Linked DNA regions of Homo sapiens. The protein of the gene in region 3 interacts with the protein of the main gene of each other region in a biochemical or structural test. Each region holds a gene or a part of one and is shown on either strand. Other genes may lie near its edges. The genes, in order: TNRC6B, NANOS2, CNOT1 and CNOT4.

Evidence for each region.
Region 1: the proteins of CNOT1 (region 3) and TNRC6B form a complex in vitro, tested with the Homo sapiens proteins (one study listed by BioGRID).
Region 2: the proteins of CNOT1 (region 3) and NANOS2 form a complex in vitro, tested with the Homo sapiens proteins (one study listed by BioGRID).
Region 4: the proteins of CNOT1 (region 3) and CNOT4 form a complex in vitro, tested with the Homo sapiens proteins (one study listed by BioGRID).

What each region holds. Positions count from the first base shown.
Region 1 is NC_000022.11:40,264,904-40,271,931, forward strand, and holds part of TNRC6B (trinucleotide repeat-containing gene 6B protein), read left to right. Parts: coding exon 1-2,133; intron 2,134-5,218; coding exon 5,219-5,377; intron 5,378-7,028.
Region 2 is NC_000019.10:45,912,703-45,919,559, reverse strand, and holds NANOS2 (nanos homolog 2), read left to right. Parts: upstream 1-4,781; 5' UTR 4,782-4,866; coding exon 4,867-5,283; 3' UTR 5,284-6,346; downstream 6,347-6,857. UniProt on the Homo sapiens protein: Plays a key role in the sexual differentiation of germ cells by promoting the male fate but suppressing the female fate. Represses the female fate pathways by suppressing meiosis, which in turn results in the promotion of the male fate.
Region 3 is NC_000016.10:58,542,823-58,549,850, reverse strand, and holds part of CNOT1 (CCR4-NOT transcription complex subunit 1), read left to right. Parts: coding exon 1-132; intron 133-1,217; exon of another isoform or gene 1,218-1,352; intron 1,353-2,168; coding exon 2,169-2,285; intron 2,286-2,554; coding exon 2,555-2,665; intron 2,666-3,101; coding exon 3,102-3,179; intron 3,180-3,352; coding exon 3,353-3,530; intron 3,531-4,359; coding exon 4,360-4,490; intron 4,491-5,947; coding exon 5,948-6,244; coding exon of another isoform or gene 6,245-6,466; exon of another isoform or gene 6,467-6,698; intron 6,699-7,028.
Region 4 is NC_000007.14:135,409,103-135,416,130, forward strand, and holds part of CNOT4 (CCR4-NOT transcription complex subunit 4), read right to left. Parts: intron 6,161-7,028; coding exon 6,074-6,160; intron 5,331-6,073; coding exon 5,229-5,330; intron 4,512-5,228; coding exon 4,386-4,511; intron 1,547-4,385; coding exon 1,413-1,546; intron 1-1,412. UniProt on the Homo sapiens protein: Has E3 ubiquitin ligase activity, promoting ubiquitination and degradation of target proteins. Involved in activation of the JAK/STAT pathway. Catalyzes ubiquitination of methylated RBM15.

The DNA.
Region 1 (7,028 bases), on a different chromosome or scaffold from region 3:
GCTCTGAGAAGAGCACTCTGCCAGGAAGCACCACTAGTAACAAAGGAAAAGGGAGCCAGTGCCAGTCTGCAAGTTCTGGGAACGAATGTAATCTTGGGGTCTGGAAATCTGACCCTAAGGCTAAATCTGTTCAATCTTCCAACTCTACTACAGAGAACAACAATGGACTAGGAAATTGGAGGAATGTGAGTGGTCAGGATAGAATTGGACCTGGCTCTGGCTTCAGCAACTTTAACCCAAATAGCAACCCATCTGCCTGGCCAGCACTGGTCCAAGAAGGAACTTCTAGGAAAGGGGCATTGGAAACAGATAATAGTAATTCCAGTGCACAGGTTAGCACAGTAGGTCAGACATCCAGGGAACAGCAGTCAAAGATGGAAAATGCGGGTGTTAATTTTGTTGTCTCTGGCAGAGAACAGGCTCAAATTCATAACACTGATGGACCAAAAAATGGAAACACTAACTCCTTGAACTTAAGTTCACCAAACCCCATGGAGAATAAGGGAATGCCCTTTGGAATGGGCTTGGGGAACACCTCCAGGAGCACTGATGCCCCTTCACAAAGCACTGGAGATCGAAAGACTGGGAGTGTTGGATCTTGGGGTGCAGCTAGGGGGCCTTCTGGAACTGACACAGTCTCTGGACAAAGCAATTCTGGAAACAATGGGAACAATGGAAAAGAGAGAGAGGACTCCTGGAAAGGAGCTTCTGTTCAGAAATCAACTGGGTCAAAAAATGACTCTTGGGACAACAATAACAGGTCTACGGGTGGGTCCTGGAACTTTGGCCCCCAGGACTCTAATGACAACAAATGGGGTGAAGGGAACAAAATGACATCTGGGGTCTCTCAGGGAGAATGGAAACAGCCGACTGGGTCTGATGAGTTGAAAATTGGAGAATGGAGTGGTCCAAACCAACCAAATTCTAGCACTGGAGCATGGGACAATCAAAAGGGCCACCCCCTCCCTGAAAACCAAGGCAATGCCCAGGCTCCCTGTTGGGGAAGATCTTCCAGCTCCACAGGAAGTGAAGTTGGAGGTCAAAGCACTGGAAGCAACCACAAAGCAGGAAGTAGTGACAGTCATAACTCTGGCCGTCGGTCGTACAGGCCCACACATCCTGATTGTCAGGCTGTCTTGCAGACTCTTTTGAGCCGAACTGATTTGGACCCCAGGGTGCTCTCAAACACTGGCTGGGGCCAAACTCAAATTAAGCAGGACACAGTGTGGGACATTGAAGAGGTGCCAAGGCCTGAGGGGAAATCTGACAAAGGAACTGAGGGGTGGGAGAGCGCTGCCACACAGACCAAGAACTCAGGGGGCTGGGGAGATGCACCCAGCCAAAGCAATCAAATGAAGTCTGGATGGGGGGAGCTCTCAGCCTCTACAGAGTGGAAAGACCCCAAGAACACAGGAGGCTGGAATGACTACAAGAACAACAACTCTTCCAACTGGGGAGGAGGACGACCTGATGAAAAGACACCTTCCTCTTGGAATGAGAATCCCAGCAAGGATCAGGGGTGGGGAGGTGGACGCCAGCCCAATCAAGGATGGTCTTCTGGAAAGAATGGTTGGGGGGAGGAAGTCGATCAGACAAAAAACAGCAATTGGGAAAGTTCTGCAAGTAAACCTGTGTCTGGGTGGGGTGAAGGAGGGCAGAATGAAATCGGGACTTGGGGTAATGGTGGCAATGCAAGCCTAGCTTCAAAAGGTGGGTGGGAGGATTGCAAAAGATCCCCAGCATGGAATGAGACGGGCCGACAGCCCAATTCCTGGAATAAACAACACCAACAGCAGCAGCCCCCACAGCAGCCGCCGCCACCACAACCAGAGGCTTCTGGTTCGTGGGGAGGCCCACCCCCACCACCTCCAGGCAACGTTCGACCTTCCAATTCCAGCTGGAGCAGCGGGCCACAGCCTGCAACACCTAAGGATGAGGAACCCAGTGGTTGGGAAGAGCCATCCCCACAGTCAATTAGTCGGAAAATGGACATTGATGATGGCACTTCAGCATGGGGAGACCCTAACAGTTATAACTACAAGAATGTGAATCTGTGGGATAAGAATTCCCAAGGGGGCCCAGCACCTCGAGAACCAAACCTGCCCACCCCAATGACCAGTAAATCGGCATCAGGTAAGCAGTGGCTTTCTCTTGCAGCTTTTGATGAAGAAAAGGAATCCTAGACCAAGGCATTTTTATTAGGTGAATTTATTCAACTTAGTTTTGTTCTGAGATGCTTTCCTACAGTTTCTACTCTGTTGCTAACAGAACCTCTTTTTATGAAATGCTAGTGATGGCAGATGCTGGTAGTACATTTTAATGTTCTTTCTTGGCAAAAGGAAAAGATGACAACCCTGTGTTAGTCCCCAAAATTATTTTTCTGTAATTGTATTGGTCTGCAGAATCCAAAAGACATATCTTGCCAAACAAACTATGTTCTAGATTTTAAAATAAAGAATTAAAGTAGTAGCAGAAATAGACCTGATTTCCATTCTGGTTCTACCCATGGACATGTCTCTGCTTCTGTTTCCCCAGCAAAGGGAAATAATTCTGTGTTTTTCCAAAGGCCATGATGATGCTGAAGCAAAGCTGGATCTGGAAGGTTTCAGTCTCTTTCTGGATGATTTTTAATGATTACCTCTGGAATGGGAGTACTTTGTATAAGAGATTGTTATCTCAGTCCTAGTGAGATGGCTCACACCTGTAATCCCAGCACTATGGGAGACTAGGGCAGGAGGATCCCTTGAGCCCAGGAGTTTGAGACCAGCCTGGGCAACCTAGAGAGACTTCAGTCTCTACAAAAATATTTTTTAAAAATCAGACGGGTGTGGTGCATGTGCATATAGTCCCACCTACTCTAGAGGCTGAGGTAAGAGGATCGCCTAAGCCCTGGAGATGGGAGGCTGTAGGGAGCTATGATCTCACCACTGCACTCCAGTTTGGGAGACAGAGCGAGACCCTGTTGCCAAAAAAAAAAGAGCGATTGTTAGGATAGTCAGTTGCCCAGAATTAAACTTTCTTCCGTCACTATTTGAATAGGAAACATCATACCTGGTAAAAGTAGCAATGGTAATGCCATTCTTAGTTTGTCATTGTCAACTTGAATGTCCCTATAGAGCATATAGTTCAACAAATTAAGGGGGATGCACCTTTCAGTCTTTTTTTAGTTAAAATTAATATTAAGAACCAGTTTTCTTTTTTTGAGACAGAGTCTCACTCTGTTGCCCAGGCTGGAGTGCAGTGGCACGATCTCGGCTCGCTATAACCTCCGTGCCAAGTTCAAGTGATTCTCTTGCCTCAGCCTCCTGAGTAGTTGGGATTACAGGCACCCACTGCCATGCCCAGCTAATGTTTGTATTTTTAGTAGAGACAGGATTTCACCATGTTGGCCAGGGTGGTCTCAGACTCCTGACCTCAGGTGATCCACCCGCCTCAGTCTACCAAAGTGCTGGGATTACAGGCATGAGCCACTGTGCCCAGCCAAGAATCAGTTTTCTCCGAGTACACCTCTAGTGTTCAGCTAATCCATTTGTGGCCTCTTAGAAAAATGATTACTTTTAACTCATTCTTTTTTCAAGTATTGAAAAGAATGAGGAAGGAAATGAAGATTTCTCACTGGCTCCCCATGCAGAATAAAACCTGCTAAAATTTTAAAAAGCTACATCCACATAGCAAAAACCTTCAAACTGTGTGGAAAAGCAAAAGATAGTCAATAAAATAATCTTTGGCCAGGCGCGGTGGCTCACGCCTGTAATCCCAGCACTTTGGGAGGCCGAGGCGGACAGATCATGAGGTCAGGAGATCGAGACCATCTTGGCTAACACGGTGAAACCCCGCCTCTACTAAAAAATCGAAAAAATTAGCCAGGCGTGGTGGCGGGCACCTGTAGTCCCAGCTACTCGGGAGGCTGAGGCAGGAGAATGGGGTGAACCCAGGAGATGGAGCTTGCAAGTGAGCTGAGATCACGCCACTGCACTCCAGCCTGGGCGACAGAGCAAGACTCCGTCTCAAAAAATAATAATAATAATAATAATAATAATAATCTTAACCCCTAGGGTCTCTTCCCAAAGGTAATCTCTTAGAAGTTTGTGTCCCATTCAAAAATTTTACAGAGAAGGGATTGTACTTCGTATACTGTTCTTCACCTTGCTTTTCTCATTATACTTATAGCTTCCAATTTTAGCACATAGTCTGCTGCTTAATTGCTTCATATACAGTATTTCTTTTTTTTTTTTTTTTTTTTTTTTTTTGAGAGGGAGTCTCACTGTCTCCCAGGCTGGAGTGCAGTGGCGCAATCTTGGCTCACTGCAACCTCCACCTCCCGGGTTCAAGTGAGCCTCCTTCTCAGCCTCCCGAATAGCTGGGATTACAGGCATGCGTCGTCACGCCCAGCTAATTTTTGTATTTTTTGCTGGAGATGGGGTTTTGCCATGTGGGTCTGGCTAGTCTTGAACTCCTGACCTCAGGAGATCCACCCGCCTTGGCTCCTAAAGTGCTGGGATAACAGGCGTGAGCCATTGTGCCTGGCCTTTACACAGTACTTCTTTTATGGGTGACCCACAATTGGTCTAACCAGTCCCCTTGTGGTGGATATTTAGGTTGTTTCCAAATTTTTTCTATCAGTGATGCGGTGAGTATTGTTATACATGTAATTTCACCTATTTTTACAAGTATATTTATGGTATAATTTTCTGGCAGCCTGGGCATGATGGCTCATGCCTGTAATCCCAGCACTTTGGGAGGCTGAGCCAGGCAGATCACAAGGTCAGGAGTTTGAAGCCAGCCTGGCCAATGTGGTGAAACCCTGTCTCTACTTAAAAAAAAAAATACAAAAGTTAGCTGGGTATGGTGGCACACGCCTGTAATCTCAGCTGCTCGGGAGGCTGAGGCAGGAGAATCGCTTGAACCTGGGAGGTGGAGGTTGCCATGAGCCAAGACCACGGCATTGCACTCCAGCCTTGGGGATGGAGCAAGACTCTGTCTCAAAAAAAAAAAAAAAAAAAAAATTCCTGGCAGTTGAGTTACTGGGTGAAAAGTTTAATGTGCATCGGATTTTTTAAAAAGTAGCATTGCCAAATACCCCTCACATGAAAGTTGAATCTATTTACATTTCTACCAACAGAATATAGGCATGCCTGTTCCTTCCACCTTCACCCCACTGGATATTATGGCATTTCATTTAACAAATGATTCTTAGAGACATTTCCTTTCTTTATAGTCTGGAGCAAAAGCACACCACCTGCTCCAGATAATGGTACTTCCGCTTGGGGTGAGCCAAATGAAAGCAGTCCTGGGTGGGGCGAGATGGATGATACAGGAGCATCGACCACAGGCTGGGGGAACACGCCCGCCAACGCTCCCAATGCCATGAAGCCTAGTAAGTGTGAAGCTTTTCATTTTTGAGGGATCCTTTTTTTTTTTTTTTTTTAATTGAGACGGAGTTTCACTCTTGTCCACCCAGGCTGGAGTGCAGTGGTGCAATTTCGGCTCACTGCAACCTCTGCTTTCCAGCTTCAAGCGATTCTCCTGCCTCAGCCTCCCGAGTAGCTGGGATTACAGGCGCCCGCCACCACGCCCGGCTAATTTTTGTATTTTTATTAGAGATGGGGTTTCTCCATGTTGGTCAGGCTGGTCTTGAACTCCTGTCCTTGTGATCCACCCGCCTTGGCCTCCCAAAGTCCTGGGACTACAGGCGTGAGCCACCGTGCCCGGCCGGGATTCTTTGTTAAATGTTTGTCAAATGTCAGATTTGAGAATCTGACATTTTGGTGAGGGCTGTTTAGTTTTAAGCTGTTGATTCAATGAGATTCAGGACCTTGAGTGTTAAATAATTAGTTAATAGCAAACGGTTGTGGCTTGGCTTGGCGTTTCTTAAAATGTTTAAGGTGAATTAAAAATCATAAGTTAATTTTGTTTTAAATTTAGTATCTGGACAGAATTATAATTTTGATGTGATGCTCTTTTAGCCCAGTGACTATGTGCTCACCATATCTAGCTTGCATTTCTACTTGTTAGTATAATTTAAAACAAGAGTTCCTGGCTTTTAATGTGGAACACGATCTGTGCTGCCCAGTGACTTCATCCTTCTGCACCTTCCTTTGCCGTTGTCTCTCTTCCACATAAGAGCATTTCAGATTTTTTAAACCTGGCATAAATTTCACTTCAATTTTTTAAATGAAGAACGTCACACTTATTCAGAATCATTGAAAATCTAAAATCTAAGCTGTACTTGATCCAGCTGGTGATGTGTGGTCACAGTAATGAGCAGAACTCTGTGGACTGAGGCTATGGAATGTCTCATTGACTGTTGCTAAATTCAGGTGCCTGTTTACACTTACTTTTGTAACTTTCTTTAAAATGTTCCAACATCTCTTTTCTACCATATAGAAGCAGATTTAAGGGATTATCTTTTGATTAAATAATGAACATTTCTGGAATGACCAAAATTCAAACAAGAAGATAAATTCTGTTAAGTTTATCACATTATATTCAGTACTCTTACAGTGCCACATAAGGGAATGTGATATTAGCTCTATTCTGGAAATTCACATGTGTGTATATGTAGTAATTTGACTACATTTTAAAAATCATGAATCTCCTCGACCTCATTAAAATAGTTAGCTTTATGAAAATTTTGTTTTTATCATTATTTCTATTGTGAAATCAGTCGTATCATCATGGGAAATGTAATCTAGTAGACTTGAAATAGACCCAAAATGCTGCAAGAAGATGTTAATCAGACCCTGGGCACAAAGAGATCCTTTAGCAGTATATTCAGGATTTTCATGTGTCTTTCCCAACCTCAGGATCACCTCTCTTCTATCACAAAACCACTTTTCCTCAGATTCTAAAAATGTCTTCTACTCTTCAGGATCATCTGTAGTTATAGCACACATCCTTTCTGTGGGTAAGTTAAATGTGTAATGTGCGGAAGAAAGGGCTAAACCATCATAGTCTACCAGTTGATGGAGACAGTTACCCTGTGATCTTCTGTAGCCTGTCTTAAATTTGATGTTATGAATCCTATG
Region 2 (6,857 bases), on a different chromosome or scaffold from region 3:
AGGGTCTGCTGCTTTCCCTTGGGGTCTTAGGCAGGTTCTTCGCTCACAGCGGGCTTTGCGTGCTCCTTCTACAGGGGGTGGGAGGATGTCCAAGGTCGGGGTCAAACAGTCTTGGGTTTCAGCTCCGGAGAAACACCTTTTTTTTTTTTAACATTATTTTTATTTTTAATGGTGTTTTTTTTTGTTTTTTTTTTTTTGAGGCAGAGTCTTGCTCTGTCACCCAGGCTGGAGTCCAGTGGTGCGATCTGGGCTCACTGCAACCTCCACCTCCCAGGTTCAAGCGATTCTCCTGCCTCACCCTCCCAAGTAGCTTGGATTACAGGCACCCGCCACCACACCCGGCTAATTTTTGTATTTTTAGTAGAGACCGGATTTCACCATGTTGGCCAGGCTGGTCTCTAACTCTTGACCACAAGTGATCTGCCCGCCTGAGCCTCCCAAAGTGCTGGGATTACAGGTGTGAGCCACTGTGCCCAGCCCAGACTAACACTTACTGTCCATATGACTTTGGAAAAGCTCCTGAGCCCCTCTAAGTCTCCCTTTGCTCATCTGTAAAACAGGACCATTAACAGACTATTTGACAGGATCTGGGAGGATTTACAGATGACACAGGTCGGGCCCTGAGCATGGTGCCAGCCCACAGATGCTCAGTAATGAGTGTGCCTATGATTATTGTCTCAATTGTGTCTTCATTTCATAGATGATCTTTTTTTTTTTTTTTCGAGATGAGGTCTCACTCCGTCACCCAGGCTGGAGTGCAGTGGCACGAACACAGCTCACTGAAGTCTCAGCCTCCTGGGTTCAAGCAATCCTCCTGCCTCAGGCTTCCAAGTAGCTGGGACTATAGGCATGCATCACCAGTTAACTTCTTTGTACTTTTTATAGAGACTAGGTCTTACTATGCTGCCCAGGCTGGTCTCAACCTCCTGGACTCAAGTGATCCTCCTGCCTCAACCTCCCAAAGTGCTGGGATTACAGGAATGGGAATTTGGGACAATGGATGGGGCCAAGAGAGGACCCCCAACATTATAGATAACATTTTGCAATTACCCTTTAGGACCTTGAAAATTAAACTCATAGGTAATATAGCTCACCAACATACAAATTTTATTTTATTTTATTATTTTTTTTTCCTGAGATGGAGTCTTGCTCTGTCGCCCAGGCTGGAGTGCAGTGGTGCTATCTCAGCTCACTGCAACCTCCACCTCCTGAGTTCAAGCAATTCTCCTGCCTCAGCCTCCAGAGTAACTGGGGTTACAGGTGCGTGCCACCACGCCCGGCTAATTTTTGTATGTTTAGTAGAAACGGGGTTTCACCATGTTGGCCAGGCTGGTCTGGAACTCCTGACCTCAAGTGACCCGCCTGCCTTGGTCTCCCAGAGTGCTGGAATTACAAGCGTGAGCCACTGTGCCCAGTCACAAATTTTATTTTCAAAAATGGATATCGTGTCGTGTCCTAACCAAAATATAAAGGGAAAATAAAAAGACAGTAATTTATAATAAAATAATGTCTATGTAAGTGTATAAATGCTCAGGCATGGACACTCCAAAAATCATCTGAGCAGGGCAGACACTAGCCTCTCTGTGTAGATTCACCATGAATGAGATACAAACAAATGGTATGTTGTTTGGAGACAGATACCACAAGCAGCATTGCCTTGAGTGTTGTGGCTTCTAGAATTGGTGAATAACTGAATAAAGTTCTCAGAAAAACCAAGAGCTTGAAGACCAGAATGAACACAGTGGTTGCATTCCAGGAAAAATGAGTGTTATCTTAAAATAATGCAAAAAGCACCTAGTGCTTATATATAAAACATAGCTAGGCTCTGAATTTGGATAATTATAAATGGGTTTTTCTACCTAGATGGGTGTTCAGTGGGACACTGGAAAGTTAAGTGGGGCTCAGAACAGGTCTTGGTGGTGCGAACTGCGAGATATCTGCCATCCCTGGTCCCCACCTACTAAATCCAGCCACACCTCCAATCACGGTGACAAACTCAAAACGCCCTCACCAATTCCAAAACATGCCCTAAGGGAGATTTGCAGAGTCTGAGGGTGTCCAGCCTCTGCAAATCATGCTGGCTTCATCCTGGGATCTTCACTCCATTCTAGCCACTCCAGCCCCCTTGCTGTTCCCAAATTTCAGGATGTCTTTTTTTTTTTTTTTTTTTTGAGATGGATTCTCACTCTGTCACCCTGGCTGGAGTGCAGTGGCCCTAACTCGACTCACTGCAACCTCCACCTTCTGGATTCAAGCAATCCTCCTGCCTCAGCCTCCCAAGTAGCTGGGACTACAGGCACCCACCACTGCGCCCAGCTAATTTTATTTTATTTTATTTTATTTTATTTTATTTTTTATTTTTTATTACTTTTTTTTTTTTTTTTTGAGATGGAGCCTCGCTCTGTCACCCAGGCTGGAGTGCAATGGCATGATCTCAGCTCACTGCAACCTCCGCCTCCCAGGTTCAAGCAATTCTCCTGTCTCAGCCTCCTGAGTAGCTGGGATCACAGGCACCCGCCACCACGCCAGCTAATTTTTGTATTTTTAGGAAAGACGGGGTTTCACCATGTTGCCAAGGCTGGTCTCAACCTCCTGACCTCATGATCCGCCCACCTCAGCCTCCCAAAGTGCTGGGATTACAGGCGTGAGCCACTGTGCCCATCCTGCTAATTTTTGTATTTTTAGTAGAGATGGGGGTGGTTTCACCATCTTGGCCAGGTTGGTCTCGAACTCCTGACCTCAGGTGACCCACCCACCTCGGCCTCTCAAAGTGCTGGGATTACAGGCATGAGCCACCACACCCAGCCACAGTTTCCATATCCTGTGTTCCTCTTCCTGGAAGATTCTTCTTAGTGGTCTCAGCTTCCAAGTCCCATTCCTGAGCCAGCCACTCTTAGAACACCCGGTTCACAGGCCAGCAGGTCTTTACAGTCTAGCGTTTTCTCATTTACTGGTCGCTCTCCTGAACTCGTTCATGAAGCAGGCATAAGGTAGCCTTGGTCACTGCTGAATTTCCAGCACCCAATATGGAGCCTCAGTAACTATGTGTTGAATATCAAGGTGGCCCATGGAGACTGTGGGTGGAAGAAGAACCCCAGGTGCGGTGGGCGGGAGATGAGGCTTTTGCTCGTTCCAAAGGCCAGGAAGGATTTAAGACAATGGATGGGGCCAAGAAAGGGCTATTTTTTTTTTTTTTTTAGAGAGACAGGGTTGGCCAGACGCAGTGGCTTATGCCTGTAATCCCAGCACTTTGGGAGACCGAGGCAGGTGAATCACACCTGAGGTCAGGAGTTCCAGACCAGCTTGTCCAACATGTCAAAATCCCATCTCTACTAATACAAAAAATTAGCCAGGTGTGGTGGTGGGCACCTGTAATCCCAACTACTTGTGAGGCTGAGGCAGGAGAATCACTTGAACCTGGGAGGCGGAGATTGCAGTAAGCCAAGATTGTGCCACTGCACTACAGCTTGGGTGACAGAGCAAGACTCCATCTCATAAAAAAAAAGACAGGGTCCACTCTGTAGCCCAGGCTGGACTGCAGTGGCACAATCATGGCTCACTGAAGCCTAAACCTCCTGGGCTCAAGTGATCTTCCTGCCTCAGCCTCCTCACTAGCTAGGATTACAGGCACATGCCACCATGCCCAGCTGATTTTGTATTATATGTAGAAACAGGGTCTCACTATGTTACCCAGGCTGGTCTCAAACTTCTGGCTTCAAGTGATTCTCTAGCCTCAGCCTCCCAAAATATTAGGATTACAGGCGTGAGCCAGCATGCCTAGCCCAAGAGGGGGCATTCTAAGTGAGATTGTTCTGTGCCAAGTTCCTCTGCCACTTTTAACATCAATTCCCAGTTCCCAGAGTGATTATGAAACCCGACTCTGCCATTTCCTTGTTGTGTGACCTTGGATACATTCCTTAACCTCTCCAAGCTTCATATCTTTCTCTGTAAAATGAAAATACTAGGCCGGGTGCGGTGGCTCACGCCTGTAATCCCAGCGCTTTGGGAGGCAGAGACAGGTGGATCACCTGAGGTCAGGAGTTCGAGACCAGCCTGGCCAATATGGTGAAACCCTGTCTCTGCTAAAAATACAAAAAAAAAAAAAAAAAAAATTAGCCAGGCTTAGTGGTGGGCGCCTGTAATCCCAGCTACTCAGGAGGCTGAGGCAGGAGAATCACTTGAACCCAGGAGGCAGAGGTTGCAGTGAGCTGAGATCGTGCCATTGCACTCCAGCCTGGGCGACATAGCAAGACTCCGTCTCAAGTAAATAAATAAATAAAATAAATCAGGTCATGTTGTTATTATTATTTTTGTCTTTTTATTTTTTGTAGAGACAAGGTCTCGCTATTTTGCCCACGCTGGCCTAGAGGTCCTGGGCTCAAGCGATCCTCTTTCCTCAGCCTCCCAAAGTGCCAGGATTACAGGTGTGAGGCACTGCGCCCAGCCTGGCTGCTATGATGATTAGGAATAACTCTGAAGTCTATGAAGGGTGCAGCCCCTCCAGCCTAGGGGTGGGGGATATTTGCAGACATGGACTTTCTTTGAACAGATAGGGAAACTGAGGCACAGAGAATGGAAGTGTCTTCCCAGAGGTCACAGAGCACCTTGGCAGCAGAGCTGGGACCAGAGATCAGGGGAATGACCTCCTTCCACATCTCTGTGAAGAACTAAAGTCAGATGGGGGTTATGGGCAGGGAGTGAGCCCTTTAAATCCTAAGCTCCACCTTTACTTAGAAGAGTCTCTGGGCGTTATAAAAGGGGATGCAGCTCCCTTCTGCTCTGGGAAACGCCTGCTGCTCTTGCCCTTGCCCACGGGCCCCCAGCCCCAGCCCCTCTCCTGTGGCCCACCACCCCTGCTTTGGTGCCATGCAGCTGCCACCCTTCGACATGTGGAAGGACTACTTCAACCTGAGCCAGGTGGTGTGGGCGCTGATCGCAAGTCGGGGTCAAAGGCTGGAGACCCAAGAGATTGAGGAGCCAAGTCCCGGGCCTCCGCTGGGGCAGGATCAGGGGCTGGGGGCGCCAGGGGCCAACGGGGGCCTGGGGACCCTGTGCAACTTCTGCAAGCACAACGGGGAGTCCCGCCACGTCTACTCCTCACACCAGCTGAAGACACCGGATGGCGTGGTGGTGTGTCCCATCCTGAGGCACTACGTGTGTCCCGTGTGCGGGGCCACCGGTGACCAGGCCCATACGCTCAAGTACTGCCCGCTTAACGGTGGCCAGCAGTCCCTCTACCGCCGCAGCGGGCGCAACTCGGCCGGACGCAGGGTCAAGCGCTGAGCATCGTGAGATGCTCACCACCCGCACCCCTGACCCTCCTGGTCCATCCCACCCAAGTCCCTAAACTCTCTCTTCCAGTCACCCAGCCCTTTGGAATTTCTGGCCCCCAGAACTCCACCCTGGCTGGATCCTGAAACAGTGGAGGCTGCTGGGAGCCAGGCCAGCCCCGCCCCCTTGGACCTGTCAGCCCTCGGAGCTCTGGCCTGTGGGCGTTGGCCTGAGGGTCCTTGGTGCCGCGGGAACCCTTCCTGCACGGCCCTGTAGCGCCCTCTGGGCCCCGGTTCATGGATCTTTTGTCCTCGTGGGGCCTGCTGGTGACTGGAGCCCTGCCCCTTCGACTTCTCTGTTCCTTGTGGAGTTCTTGGATTTTTGAACCTCCAGGATTCCACGGTGCTGTCCCAAGCCAGCCCTTAGGAGATACTGAACAAGGCTGGCTGAGAAGTGCCTACTCAAGAACTTCAAGATGGGATGTCGACTTAAGACCAGCCTTCTCCATCTTCAGCCTCCTGCAGAACCACGGTGTCATCGTGGACCACGCCTGTTCATTCCTTCCCTGACCTCAGTACCCATCCGTCAGGAGCGGAGTAGGACTCTGGAGAGCACCGTATCACTGGAGGGCACCGTGTCTTCGCAGGCTCACCTGTGGATGGAGAGCCGTGGGGTGAGCTGACACCTTTCAATGCCCCCTGGTTGTTCTTCCCCTTGTTCAGCCCATTGCACCCGGTACCTGCCCCCATCCCCAAATCACCGATGGGTCCTTTCCCCCAGCGAGAAGCATATCTCTCGACCACCTCCCGTCCGACCCCCCAAATCGTGATAGTTGACTAAAGGACATTTTTTTTTCCTCCTGTGTTTTTCAACCTCCAACGTTCAAGTCAAGGAACCGCCGATAAGAAGGGGGTTTGAGTACCCGGATGGGAATGGCAATGGCCTAGCTTTTATTTTAGGGGCAAAGAGAAGAAGGGCCCCCGTCAGATTTTAAGTTGTTCAGTTTTTGGCACAGGGTCGGGACCCTGAGTATTGAGCTCTGGTGAATAAAAAGGTTTTCTAGTCGTCTTTGAAATGGCTGTATCTGTTTCCGTCTTTGGTTTGTTTGTGAGACAAGGTCTTGCTCTGTCGCCCAGGCTGGAGTGCAGTGGTGCGATCTTGGCTCACTGCCCGGATTCAAGTGATTATCCTCCCTCAGCCTCTTGAATAGCTGGGACTACAGGTGCGCCCCACCACGCCTGGCTAATTTTTTTTTTTTTTTTTGAGACGGAGTTTTGCTGTTGTCGCCCAGGCTGGAGTGCAATGACGCGATCTCGGCCCACTGCAACCTCTGCCTCTCGGGTTCAAGCGATTCTCCTGCCTCTCAGCCTCCGGAGTAGCTGGGATTATAGACATGCACCACCACGCCTGGCCATTTTTGTATTTTTAGTAGAGACGGGGTGACCGAGTAGGCGGGACTACAGGTGCACGCCACCACACCCAGGTAATTTTTATTTTTGGTTTTTGTTTTTTCTTTTTTGAGATGGAGTTTCGTTCTTGCTGCCCAGGCTGGAGTGCCAATGGTGCGGTCTCGGCTCACTGCACCA
Region 3 (7,028 bases):
TCACAGTATCTGGTTATGAAGAGAGTCAGTATTGAGCCAAACTTTCATAGCCTGTATTCAAACTTCCTTGACACGCTGAAGAATCCTGAATTTAACAAGATGGTTCTGAATGAGACCTACAGAAACATTAAAGTAAGAGTTGGTTCTTATATTTCCTTTAATTATTGCTTTGAATTTGGAAATATTTGATTATATAGGTAGGATTTTTGCTATTTTTCCATATATATTGTCAATATTAGGTACCTCTGGAAATTGCTGTAGATTTTGTTTCTTATATGGAACTAAATTTTATGCAGAACTTAAATTTATAGGCATACCCTGTGCCTTTTCTTTGAAAGTAACCACTATTATGAATTGTTTTTGTCATGCCATGCATGATTTTAGAACTTTACCACTGTTATACATAAGCAGCATAGTATTGGTTAGCATATTCTGTATGGTGTCGCCCTCTGTACATCCTTTTCTTTTTTTTTCACTTACTTTTTTTTCTCCCCTGGATATTATTCATGATAATGATAATGCTCTTTGCTGTAGCCCCCTTTTTTTTTTTTTTTCAATTTTTTTGAGATGTGGTCTCACTCTGTTGCTTAGGCTGGAGTGCAGTGGCACGATCTCGGCTCACTGCAGCCTCCACCTCCCAGGTTCAAGCAGTTCTCTTACTTCAGCCTCCCGAGTAGCTGGGATTATAGTTGTACCGCCATGCCCAGCTAATTTTTATATTTTTAGTAGAGACGGGGTTTAATCATATTGGCCAGGCTGGTCCCGAACTCCTGACCTTAGGTGATCCACCCTCCTCGGCCTCCCAGAGTTCTGGGATTACAGGCCTGAGCCACTGTGCCCGGCCAGTCCTCTTTTTTAAAAAACAGAAAAATATAGTCTTGTAGAAAACCATTGTATGTATTTGTATTGCTGCTGGGCATTTGTGTTGTTAATCACTTAAACTATTATAAACAATGCTGTCCTGAATGTTTTCGTTTGTATCTTGTAGTATTCAAGTGCAAGATATCTTTAGACTCTAAATCTGTTTGTGGAATAGCTGTTGTCTAGGAGTCTGTGCAGTTTAAGGTCAAATTCTACTGAGCTGAGGCTTATTCAACAAAATTCAAGTATTTTAATTTCTAAACCATCATTTATTTCTTAGGAGGAAAAACTTCTAGAACCAGCATACAGCTGTGGTCATTCTTTGCTCAATAACTTGGGTCATTGGCTTAGGAACCAGCACTATATTTAAACCTGTGGATGGGAATATTCCCCATTCTTGGTTACGCTGTAGTGCAAAAGAATTCCTGGCTCTCTGTTGCACAGCTGACTTGTGCCATTCTGCTGTTGCTGTATAGAGTTAAGGAACATGGCTCTATTTCGTTTTTATTATCTGATAGCAAGGGTGGTTGGGATACATAAAAGTTTCCACATACTCTGTAGCAAAGTTTCAAGACCATGTTTTTTAAACAGAAGTTTAAATATAGCCCTAAGTCAAGAGGTACCACAGAGTAGATGGGTATATACATGTGTGCATACCTGCAGCCAAAACACTCTCCTATGTTAGTTCTGCCCCCCCTTAGAAAAACAGTAACCGGAGAATCAGTTAAATGGTTTGGGTTTTTTAGAAATTTGAAAAGAAGTATATAAACAGTATTATACTATATCTCAGAAAGTTATCTTGGTTGGCTGCAGAGATTTGTTAATGACCTGGGTATACTGAAGATTGCAATAGGAGGCTAATTTGATTATATTCCTTTGTATGCTTGCTGCCTTTAAGGACTTAAGCATGGCTATCATCCTCATTTAAATTAATTTAGCACTTCAAAATAGCTTTGTAGTTAGGTCTCTGCTTTAAACCTAGCTAAGGTTTTCAGAGTTGAAAATACTTTTCTAGGGGAGGATAGCTGGCACATAACTTTGTGTTCTTTTTGAATTTTGTGCAATGTGTTTGTACCTATTTTGAAAAAATAAAATGTAAAGACTTCTTCAAGGTAAAAATAGCACTGTTGAATCATAAACACAGCAAAATGATATTGAGAATGATATACAGAGTAATTCTACTTTGGGGCCTGTTCTTAGAAATGATGACTTGTCTTTAGGATAGGATAATGGAATTCTCAAATACTTAGTTGAGTTTTCTTTCATAAGCTTATTCTCATATCTTTCTTAATCTTACACTATTTCAGGTGCTCCTGACCTCTGATAAAGCTGCAGCCAATTTCTCAGATCGTTCTTTGCTGAAGAACTTGGGACATTGGCTAGGAATGATCACATTAGCTAAAAACAAACCCATCTTACACACTGTGAGTTTCATCTAAATGTGTAAAAATTGAGAATCTTCAGCACATTATGATTACAAGTATTGGCTGTTTGGAGCTATTTAATGATTATTGGGGTTTTGTAAGATTTTGGCCCACGTTTTGAGTTGTTAACCCCTTTTTGTAAGGCAAGGACTAGACATTATGTTGATTCCTGTTTTGGGGATAAGCTTGGCAAAATACTTTTCTTTGGTTTTGTTATACCATTTTGGGGGGTATATTCCCCGCTTTTGAAAGTATTTTTCTTATTCTAGGACTTGGATGTGAAATCATTGCTGCTAGAGGCTTATGTTAAAGGACAACAAGAATTGCTCTATGTAGTGCCCTTTGTTGCCAAAGTCTTAGAATCTAGCATTCGTAGTGTGGTGAGTAGATTTTAATATTTTATTTATGACTAATTTCTAAGCATTGCTTTGTTTTAGCATGAGGTCAAGAGATTATATTCTTAGTTCTTGTGAGGTAAAGCTAGTTAAGTCTGTTTTCCTCTATGGCACTTGGATTTCCAATTTGAGAGGCTGGGTGAAATAAGAAAGATTATAATGGTTGGCTTTGGTTTTTGGTTTTTTGTTTTGTTTTGTTTTTGAAATGTGATATAGGTGAGAAGGCTAGGGGTTTTGTTATGGCTACAGAGGTATAAGTGTTTAACTATGTTTAACTGTTTTTGGTTATTTTTTAATCCTTGTTTTTTGTTTTTTATTTGTTTGACTCCCCCCTACCCCCTTATGTTGTATTGAATTGTTTTAAATAATCCAAATTAAAGGGCACATTTTGGGCCAGCTTAACATAATAGCTTTTCTTTAGGTTTTTAGGCCACCAAACCCTTGGACAATGGCAATTATGAATGTATTAGCTGAGCTACATCAGGAGCATGACTTAAAGGTAATTTACTGCTTCCTTGTCCTCTGGAACATTCTTTGCCTTCACATTATTAAAACTTACAGTGAAGGCAGGGTATTTCGGGGGAAGTACTATAATAACTGAAAGTAGAGTATATTATGAGTAAAACTAAAGTTTTCTTTTAAAAATTCTAATCCAACTCTGGAACTGTGCAGTTAAACTTGAAGTTTGAAATCGAGGTTCTCTGCAAGAACCTTGCATTAGACATCAATGAGCTAAAACCTGGAAACCTCCTAAAGGATAAAGATCGCCTGAAGAATTTAGATGAGCAACTCTCTGCTCCAAAGAAAGATGTCAAGCAGCCAGAAGAACTCCCTCCCATCACAACCACAAGTAAGTGTGCTAATTAGTCAAGGAAGGCTTCTGTTAGCTAGGATACTATCTTAAATGGTACTTGTCCATGTATATCGCAAACTATAATTTCCCACATAATGTAGTGGTGAAACTTTGTATACGTTTTGGTGAGCCTTCTAATTATCAAGCAGAAGTAATGACTAGGCCTTGTGTTACCATCTTAGATTCCATCCTGACAGTTCATGCATATTATTAACTAAATGTGATTTAATCAGTTGCCTCTCATACCCCAGCTAGGCCAGGTTATCTCCTTTGTTGTGTGAAGTCCCAGAAATAACTGCATACTATGATGGCCTGTTAACCCCTCAAATCTGGGTATGGCCAGACCTGCTAGATCTGCCAAGGGAATGGGACTGTTTTATCTACATGAAGAAGATGGGAGAAGGGTATGGGAGTGTTGAATGATTGGGAGTTGTGGTTAGAATAAATTGAGCTTTTCTTTCTTTCTCAGTCCTCAGCAGCTGAGAATCCCCAGATAAACCTAGGAACAGGCTAGGTTGAAAACATACATTTATAATATAGACTAAGTTTATAGGACTTGGGCCTGACAATATGGCATGGCTGCTCAGTTGATTTCTGTGCTGTGGGGCACTGGCACTGACATAGTTTAACATACTTCGTGTATATCTCTGTTATAACAACAGAATTTCCCTTTCAGGGTGGGAAAAATAGGACCTGCTACATCCTTCCCTCCTCTCCCAATTTAATTCGTTTAATTAGATAATGACCACTTAATGATATTAAGCTAATTTTATAATAAAGTCAACAAATGTACTTTTTAAATCTCTTTTTATTACTTGACATTTAGCAACTTCTACTACACCAGCTACCAACACCACTTGTACAGCCACGGTTCCACCACAGCCACAGTACAGCTACCACGACATCAATGTCTATTCCCTTGCGGGCTTGGCACCACACATTACTCTGAATCCAACAGTAAGTAAACACTGCTCCATTCTCCCAGCTTCTAGTTTGTGATAAGGTAAATTTTGTTTGGCCACCTTTTCTTCAGCTCTTTGCCCTTCCCTCTGGATTCCTAGGTTGTAGAGTTTGTCAGAGAGGATGGAGATCTAGAACTGCTGTGTAGTTCAGTTGGGATTGTTCTTCTTCCCTTAAGAGATAGAGTGACTAGATGTTAGTTATATTGGTTCCTCATATCCAAACCCATGATACTAAAATTTAGCTAGCAATAAAATCACAATCTCCAGGAATTCCTTACACAGAGTAAAAGATGCTTAATGTATATCATAGCTTTTTATTTTCTTTATCTTGTCACTTTAGCCTTCTGCAGTAAGCCATTTCTTCCACCTGAAGGCTGGAAATGAGCTGATTGTGGGTGTGTATACAATTTCTAGGCTAAGATCTTGAAGTAGGACTTAGCACTTTGAGTTATGTTGTTGTGGCCTGGTTCCAGAAGGAGGTCTGATACAATATGGTCATGTAAGATGACCTCTGATCAGTCCTTTTTCCTATAGTTAGTATTTGCTTTGTACATTCAAGGGGACATTTTATTGTTATCTTTAGTCTTTTATTCTACTTAACAGAATATATAATACAGAATCAGGTGAGTGGAGTTTTCATTGTCCTTACTTTTTAGAAACTGAAAATGTTCACAAATACAAGAGTAACATTAATACATTGAACTTTTTATTAAAAGGAATTGAAAGGGTATCAGAGAAATCATTTTATCCTTGTCCCCCCATCCCCACTCCTATAGACATGGTACTTAGTTTTAGAGGGGTGGAGTGAGAGGCAGTGGGACACCTAGATCCAGAAATTGTGATTCATCTTTAGAATACTCTTAGTGTTGTGAACACTATTATATGCTAGTTTAATTTTTTTTTTTTTTAATTCAACAAGTTAAAGGGACCAAGTAAGTTTTGGGGCATAATTTACACCTGCAATAAAAGATTAGAAACAGCCTTTCAAATGAAGCCAAATACTTCAGTGGGCACTGTAAAATGCTCACTATTCTGATGAATTAATTTTAATAGTTTTTGTAAGAAGTCTTTTTTCTATAAACTTTATTCTTTTTACATTTTCCCAAGCTAGTGGAGAAGTTGCTTTCTTTTAAGAGCACTTGAGCCACAAATTTTAAATAAGCCAGCAGTGTGTCTTTAAGTAGTTAATGCATATTGTAATGAACAGTTTGTCCATTAAACTTGGATTTAAAAAAAAGACATATCTATTATTGTGTATCACAGGGTATACTGAATACATTTCCCTGTATGGAGCTCAGTTTCTGTTACCCGAATTTTCCATTGGTTAACTTTAAGTAGAAACTGGTAGTTTTTGGTTAATCTTGATTTACAAAATCATGAATGTGATTGCCAGTAGGAATTGGATTGTCTTATTTAAACAAGGTGTTGACTTTGTCCTCCCCAACCCCCCAGATTCCCTTGTTTCAGGCCCATCCACAGTTGAAGCAGTGTGTGCGTCAGGCAATTGAACGGGCTGTCCAGGAGCTGGTCCATCCTGTGGTGGATCGATCAATTAAGATTGCCATGACTACTTGTGAGCAAATAGTCAGGAAGGATTTTGCCCTGGATTCGGAGGAATCTCGAATGCGAATAGCAGCTCATCACATGATGCGTAACTTGACAGCTGGAATGGCTATGATTACATGCAGGGAACCTTTGCTCATGAGCATATCTACCAACTTAAAAAACAGTTTTGCCTCAGCCCTTCGTGTAAGTTGGCTATTTCCTTGGTATAGGTACAAAACGTATTACTGCTTGTCTGTAATAATTTTTTTCTTTGTCTATATATGGCACTGGGCGTTACCACTTATTCTTAATAATCACCATATTTGTTTGATGTCTTCCATCATTTTAGATTGTAATTCTGTGAGGCAAAGCATCATGTCTGTGTGTTTTTTTTTTTTTCTGTTATATTCTCAACACGATGTTTGACAGATAGTAGATACCCAAATATTTGTTGGTTTAAATAAATTAAGATTTAAAAAGGAAATGTGATATCTGACAATCTCATTTCTGTTAACCAGGAAGGATGAAAGCTGTTTGAGAAGGCCGATACAAAATGACTTAAAGTGATGTTGCATGTGCACACACTTTTCAAATAATTCACTTACTAGTTTTGAGTCTCAGATATCATGGTTAATAATTCAGGTATCATGATTAATAATTTGTTTACTGCTTTAATGATTTTTTTTGGTTGTTTTTTGCCTTTTTTTTAATGTTTCATGAGACAGGGTCTCACTCTGTAGCTTAGGCTAGAGTACAGTGGTGCAGTCTTGGCTCACTGCATCCTCCACCTCTGAGGTTCAACTGATTCTCGTGCTTCAGCCTCCCAAGTAGCTGGGATTACAGGCATGTGCTACCACGCCCCACTAATTTATGTATTTTTTTAGTAGAGAAGTGGCTTCACCATGTTGGCTAGGCTGGTCTCAAACTCCTGGCCTCAAGTGATCTACCTGCCTTGGCCTCCCAAAGTGCTGGGATTAGAGGTGTGAGC
Region 4 (7,028 bases), on a different chromosome or scaffold from region 3:
TTTTAATGCAAACAATGATGTGCATAAATGTTAAAAGCATCTAAAATAAACCACTGTTTACTACAATAACTTCATTCTTATACCAAGCACTACAGAGGTGGCAACGAATAAGATAAGTAATAGCATATGGTTTGCCATAAAATAACCATACAGGGCTAGAAAAGGGTGGGTACAAAAGATTAAAGGAAAAGATCAAAGCTTGTCAAACCAGAAAGATCTGTTTTGACTTAGCTTTTATTCTTAGCTTTGATATAAACAAATTTTACATAGTTTACTATACAGTAACTTTATGTTTCGCTTTGTGGCCTATTTTATATTTATTTATATTTACATACACATATATATGTGTCTAATTTAGTTTTTAATAATTTAAATAATCTTTACTCTTAAAATGAATAAACACAGACTTCAAAATTTAAAGAATGTGTTTTTGAAGAAATGGACTCAAACAATAATCCATGTAGTTATTATTAGCTATGTTTGAAAATAGTTCTTACATCATTTTAGCACCAAACAGACACTGGGCTATAATATTTAACACCTAGACATTAGGACAACATTCAAACAAATTTAACTTTGGAATTTTAAAAAAAGATCATCAACATAAATTAATTACAACATTTACTTTTAAAATTCATTTGATAAAAGTTAAACTTATCAAATAAAAAAGAACAAAAAACCTAACACATCAAATTTAAAGAAAGTTCAGGATAGAATAAAATTCCCAAATTATATTTATTAATATGATTTTCTGACAGGCCATAACAAAATATAATCTAAGATAAGAAGATCAACATATCAGAATGAGACTCTCTACTGAAGACCATAAATTTATTTAAGCATTGACACAATATAGTTTACCCAAAACCATAATGAGATGGAAGATAGGAGATGACTGGTCTCCTAAGATAAGTAAGATTCTGAATATGGGATACTCCCTGTTCATTTACAGGATTTAAATGACTTTAGTGATTCCTGGAACTAGATATCCTTGAATATCTGTGTCCCCAACACACAAGGCTTCCTTCAGATAACACCCACTTTCCCTTTTATAGTATTTTCCCCCTAATTATATCAAGGGGGACCTCAATTAGGTAATCAGAGCCTTTTAAAACCTAAAATCCCTTAATTTTCTCTTTAATAAGGAAAGTATTCCCTGGGCTCAGAGTAGTCTGCAAATCACCACAAAAGGTGAACCCATCAAAAAGCTAGTCTGAAGTGTTACCAGGGAAAAGTAGGCAGCAAGCATTCAAACCCAGAAATTGTGACTCAACATTTCCCATACAGCTAAACAATTCTGCATAAATGACAGACCTTGTCAACAAGGATTTTGCCTGAAAAAGATCTAAAATGAAAAGAGAAGATCAACTGATAAGAAGGTAAGATGTCTGACTATCAATATCAATACTTACGTATCGTACCTCTGCAGTGGTGTCACTTTGTTCTTATTTTTATCAACTGAACCCGTAGATAGCTGAAGAAAATTGGGATTTAATTTATATAATTCTTGAAGTAGCTTCTGTTCATATTCTTGGTGTTTACCCGCCTAACGAAAGAAGAAATTAAAACTGCAGTGGGATTCACAAAATGGCTGGTATAAAATACTGAATAATCTTCTGAATTATTAAATATATTTTAAATAAAATAAATAATATTTTTAAAAAATAAAATATTAAATAAATTTTAAATAAATTTTTAAATAAAACAAGTAAGAGAAACCTGTGAGGATATCACAAAACTTCTAGATCAATGAAAGTCATTCCAACAAAATTATATGATATATATCTGATAAATTAAATTAAGGCATTTCATCAACCCATTTATTGTACAGAAAAGCATATTAAGGGAAGAACATTTTTGCTAGCTCAAAAAGTGTAAGGTCCACTTTAAACCTACTTCCAAGTCTTTCATGTAAGAATTAAGTCTTGTAACACTGAGTTTTCTGAAAATCAGCCAAAATTCATCAGTCTCCTTTTTAATTTGGAGATTAGCACTTGAAGTAATACATAGATGAACAGTTTTACTATATTCTTCATTATCTTGACACTAAGTAAAACTTCCATGAATTAGTTTTTGCTTTCTCTTTTCTTCTATGGTTATCAAAAGTAAAATAAAAATTAATGTATTTTAAACTCTAGACCCAGGGTCAGCAATTTACAGCCAGTTGCCTGTTTTTATAAATAAAGTTTTACTGGAACATGGTCATGCCCATTCATTTACATATTGTATTTGGCTGCCATTCTGCTACAAAGGCAGGATGTAGTAGTGCAACAGAGGCAGAGTAAAGTAGTTGTGACAGAAGACTACATACATAGCTCAGAAACCCTAAAATATTTACTAACTGGCCTTTACAGAAAAAGTTTGCCAACCTCTGCTCTATACACAAAAGAATGCTATGCTTACTCTAGCTGGGTAGGTGTACATCAAAAGGCAATGTCACAAATATTATGGGAAAAATTAGGCAAAGATTGCCTGTGGAAGCTAATTAGACACAAAAATAAATGATAATGAACTTACTTTGAGTAACATTTTACTATTTGCATGTATATCTAGACTGGAAGAATAGTTTTACTTACCTTCAGGGATGTTAATTTTTTTAAATTATGGTCTAAATAGATGTTATACAACAAAACCAAAACGGAACAAATCAAAACAATAACAAGTGAGGGCAATTGCACTTAACTGAGCATAATTGTGTCATATATACTGCACAATGCATCGTTCCCTGTTCTGAGAGGCCACTTGCTTGTTTCTATTGGACCTATAAATATTTCCTATGGCACTAAATTTTGAGTTACGCAGTAACAAGGAAAGATTTTCTGATTTTTGCCATAAAATTTATTCAAATTTCTTTCCTACATCAAGAAAGTGTTTTAACAACAACAACAAAAAATCCCCTTTTAAAGTAATTTTAAACTCAGCTAAAGAAGAGCAAGATAAATTCAGGACAACATTATGAAATTAGTTTTAAATTATTTTTAAAAATACATTAGATGTGAAATTTACATTTTTAAAACATGAAAAGTCTTGAAAATTATTTCTGGAATCAATACTTCAGGAGATACGGCTTTCACTAATATCTGTGGAAAGCCACAAAGAGCTCAACTTGATATTAAAATGACTCTACAGGGGCAGTTCATAAAGACAGGTTAAATCCCATTACAAACAAGTTCCAAAGGACAGCCCATACATTTTATTTTATTGTTTAATATTACTTTAAATGAGATCAACTGGGTGGGACTTGTAAATTCTGATAGACAGAAATTGATAGGAAATATGAATAAAGTATACCCTCTACTAATTAAAATTTAGTTTGAAATTTTGAAATGGTTCTACCTTAGATTTCATTCAAGAAGGTTTCATCCAAAAAACAAACAAAAAAAGCATTAAGAAATCAGTTAAGTCATCTGTCCTTATTAAATATCAGATAGACCTTATTTTAACATTGTTTTTGAATCATAAAGACCATACTATCAAGAAAACTCTGATGTATTTATTATAATGGGATTTAATCTGTACTAGCTCCAAGTCAAAAAAGGTAATACTCCATTTAACAATCTTTTCTTAAAGGAGCCCCTACCAGACTTTCTCTAGTTTGACCTGGAGAATGAAAGGTAGCAATGAATGCCCCCCACCTTCTAAATGAGAAGTATTCCTGAAAAGTCCACAGCAACAATCTGAAGTCCTCATCTACAATAGGGAAGTGCAGCATTGTGCTTTGGTATAATCCTCATTTAATATGTCGTATGGTCAACATTTTTACTTGTTAAGGCATGTTTATACTACAAATTGAAAGGAGACAGGAGAAGAGGAAATGTAAAAAAGAACATAGGATATTAAGCCTTCAATTCACCCTTTACAGGATACTGACTCAGTGGACACTTGCATGGGGAGAATAATTTTGTAAAAATAATATTAGTTTATCAGCATCATTTGACAGAGTATTATTTTCTAGCAAGCTCTGTAAAGAGTATAGATTGGTTTAACAAATAATTACAATATCCCACTTAGCTTTCATTTTGTTGACATTCCCCTTAAAATAGCATTTCCCAAAGTGTTTTCCTGGTCAACTAAGTTCTGGTTGTAAATTCCCTTCGTGGATCTGTATTAGCATATTAAGGACTCTGAAAAGTCTTAAAGCAAAGAAACCTGTTCATCTTCATTAATCTAGCATTTCAAACTTAGTTGACCACAGACACATTTTTATTGTAACAATATCCTGCAGAACTGACCTTCCATTAAACACTTCATTTGGCAAATGCTACTTTAAAGTAATATCAGTTTTTACAAAATCAAATCCTTAGTTTTTGCTTTTGCAATGTTAACTAATAAAAAAAAAAGTACTCCCTTTTCTGCAAAGTTGATAATTCACATGACTTTACTACCTGCATTTCCTCTTTTGTGAAGCTGGCCGCCTCATCCCCCAATTCATGAAGATACATGCAGTCAGGTTTTGGACACTGCATATTCTTTAAGAAGTAACTGCAGTATTTTGTTGTACCTAGAGATGCCTGCAGGAGGAAGAGGGGTAAAGGAAAAGAAGACTCAATGTGAACTGACAACACAATGAGAATCTCCATGTTTAGTGTTTTCAAGTCACCTAAAATGAGGCACAAACATGACAAAACAAAAAGTATGGCTGCAAATACTAGAGAACTAAACTCTTATTAGCAGGATTTATTATAGATGAGGCTCATTTGGAAGAACTAAAGGAAACATCTGTCTATGGTTTCCAAAACTTGGACACCCAAATCTTCCCTAGATATAAGGAGAGGAGATAGACAAAAAAATCTGTTCCATGTTATGAGTGGTTAGACACATAAGAAGGCAAATTCCTTTTTCTAATTATGCCATCCTCCTTCCACTAACAGTAAAGCTTTGCTTAGTGGGACTCTTCACTGAAACTGGAATCAATGTCCATATATTTAAGGACTACCTATTTCTGAAGAAAATAATGGTACTATTTTCACAAAATAAGATATATGTAAAAATGCGATATTTTAAAAGATTATCCCCGATAATGAATGTGTTTATTCCTATCTGGTAAAAGAGGACCCTACAGAAACCAGCAGTAAACAAATTAGCTATAATAGATGGTATGGACCCTAAGACAGACTCTTCAAATTAACTGTCAAATTTAATATATAAATGCTCAGTTCTCCTCTACTTACTATATTTTATCTCGTCTTCCTTAAAAAAAAAAAAAAGAATCAAGAGGACTATATTACCTTAAGTGTTCTGCCATCTACTACCACATTGTTGACACACTGTATGGCTCTGAGAGCGTCTTCTGACCGGATATAGGTTACATAAGCACTGGCACTTGGACCCTAAAGTGAAAACATCCCATTCCACTGTTATTAGTTAAAAATTAAACAATACTAAAAAAATTCTACTGCAACCTAGGGAATTCTAAAGACCCTGACTACTACTATTACTAATGACAATAATTAGTAGTAGTAGTGGCAGTTTTGATTAAACACTAAACTAGCTCATTTGAAAGTAATAATACTCAATGAATTTTATCTGATTTTAAGAATACTGTAATATATGTGAATAAAATATTACTTTGGCTTGGGATTTATTTTTTTAGACAGTCATTTGACAGGCTCGTCAAGGTTATAAAAAAATTAAAATTTAGATTAAAAAATAAGACTTAAAGACTATGTCAAATTACATTCTCAAAAATAAATGCAATCTGGAAAACTATTCTATCTGATAACAGCAGCATAACAAAGACACTATTAAGTTTTCAATATCTGAAAATATTACAGATTAGAAATCACTATCGAATCCTCATCTATTTATCACATTGCCTGATAACAGACTCACCTCCCCCTCCCTTTCACTCCATCACTAAATGTTTGTTTTACTATTTCCCTCTTAATTGTTAAGTCCTAGAAGGGTCAAATAAGCAGCAAAAAATCCCCCACCCCACCAACAGAGGTCACTACATTGCTTAAGTCCTTGTCCCTCAAGCTTTCTAATCAGAGAGAGCAAAGTTTCCTTTGGAACAGCCCAGGTCAAGCCCAGACCATAGGGAGGAAAAGCAAAAATCCCTAAAATTAGTTACCTGTGAGCCTGCATATGATGTGCTATTATTGATGACAACTTTATGTATTTTACCAAACTTCCCAAAATATTCTGGTCGTTTTAAAACCTATAAAAGAAGAAGAAATAAGGTATAAACTGTCCCCATTTTAAACAACTTTATCCTTATAATGGAGACATTCATCATCCCTCTTCAGCAAAAGGAAAAAGATAATTTTTAAAGTTTTCTAATAAATGTCACTACCTCCTAATTGCAGTTTGTGTAGCTAACCTATAGGAAATCAAAAGAGTTTAAAAGCTATTTTTTTTCTTGACCCACTGAATAGAAACTGAGACTCACTAAATTTGGTATTATCTACTATGTTCTAATAACTGCTCCAATAGTCTATGGGATCTTACCTGTACAGTATTCTTAAACACAAAACAGATCAAAGATCTTAACTACATTGCCATTAAGAGATGATCCTTACACGAAAGCAATTCTTCAAAAACAATGACCAAAATTATGTATTAAAGGTAAAGACAGAATTGAAAGAACAGACATAAAGACAGTCTTTACTCATAAATCTATTGCATATAACACTGTTTATAAATCACAAATTTCAAGTAACAGAGTGCCCACTCAACCCTCTATGCTTTATGATTTATCATTGTGCATACAGTTTCCTATGTCAATCAGTTTTACCATTTCTCATCTGTCTCATGAGGCTTTTTCCCCTACTTTTCCTGGTACGTAACATTTCGGAAACAAATTTACACGTTTCTTTCTTTATTACCTGGTTACTTCTTGGTGGTACCTACGTACCTCATCTCCTTTACTTTGTGAACACTATATGCATTCTTTCAGCTTCTCTTACAAACTTAACCTTGGCTAATTTGACCGGTATGTAACTTGATAAAAAGACATCTCACATAATTTGCAACTACCTCAAAATTCTGTTTTCCTAGAATGTATCTTTAGACCTACTGTTCCTACA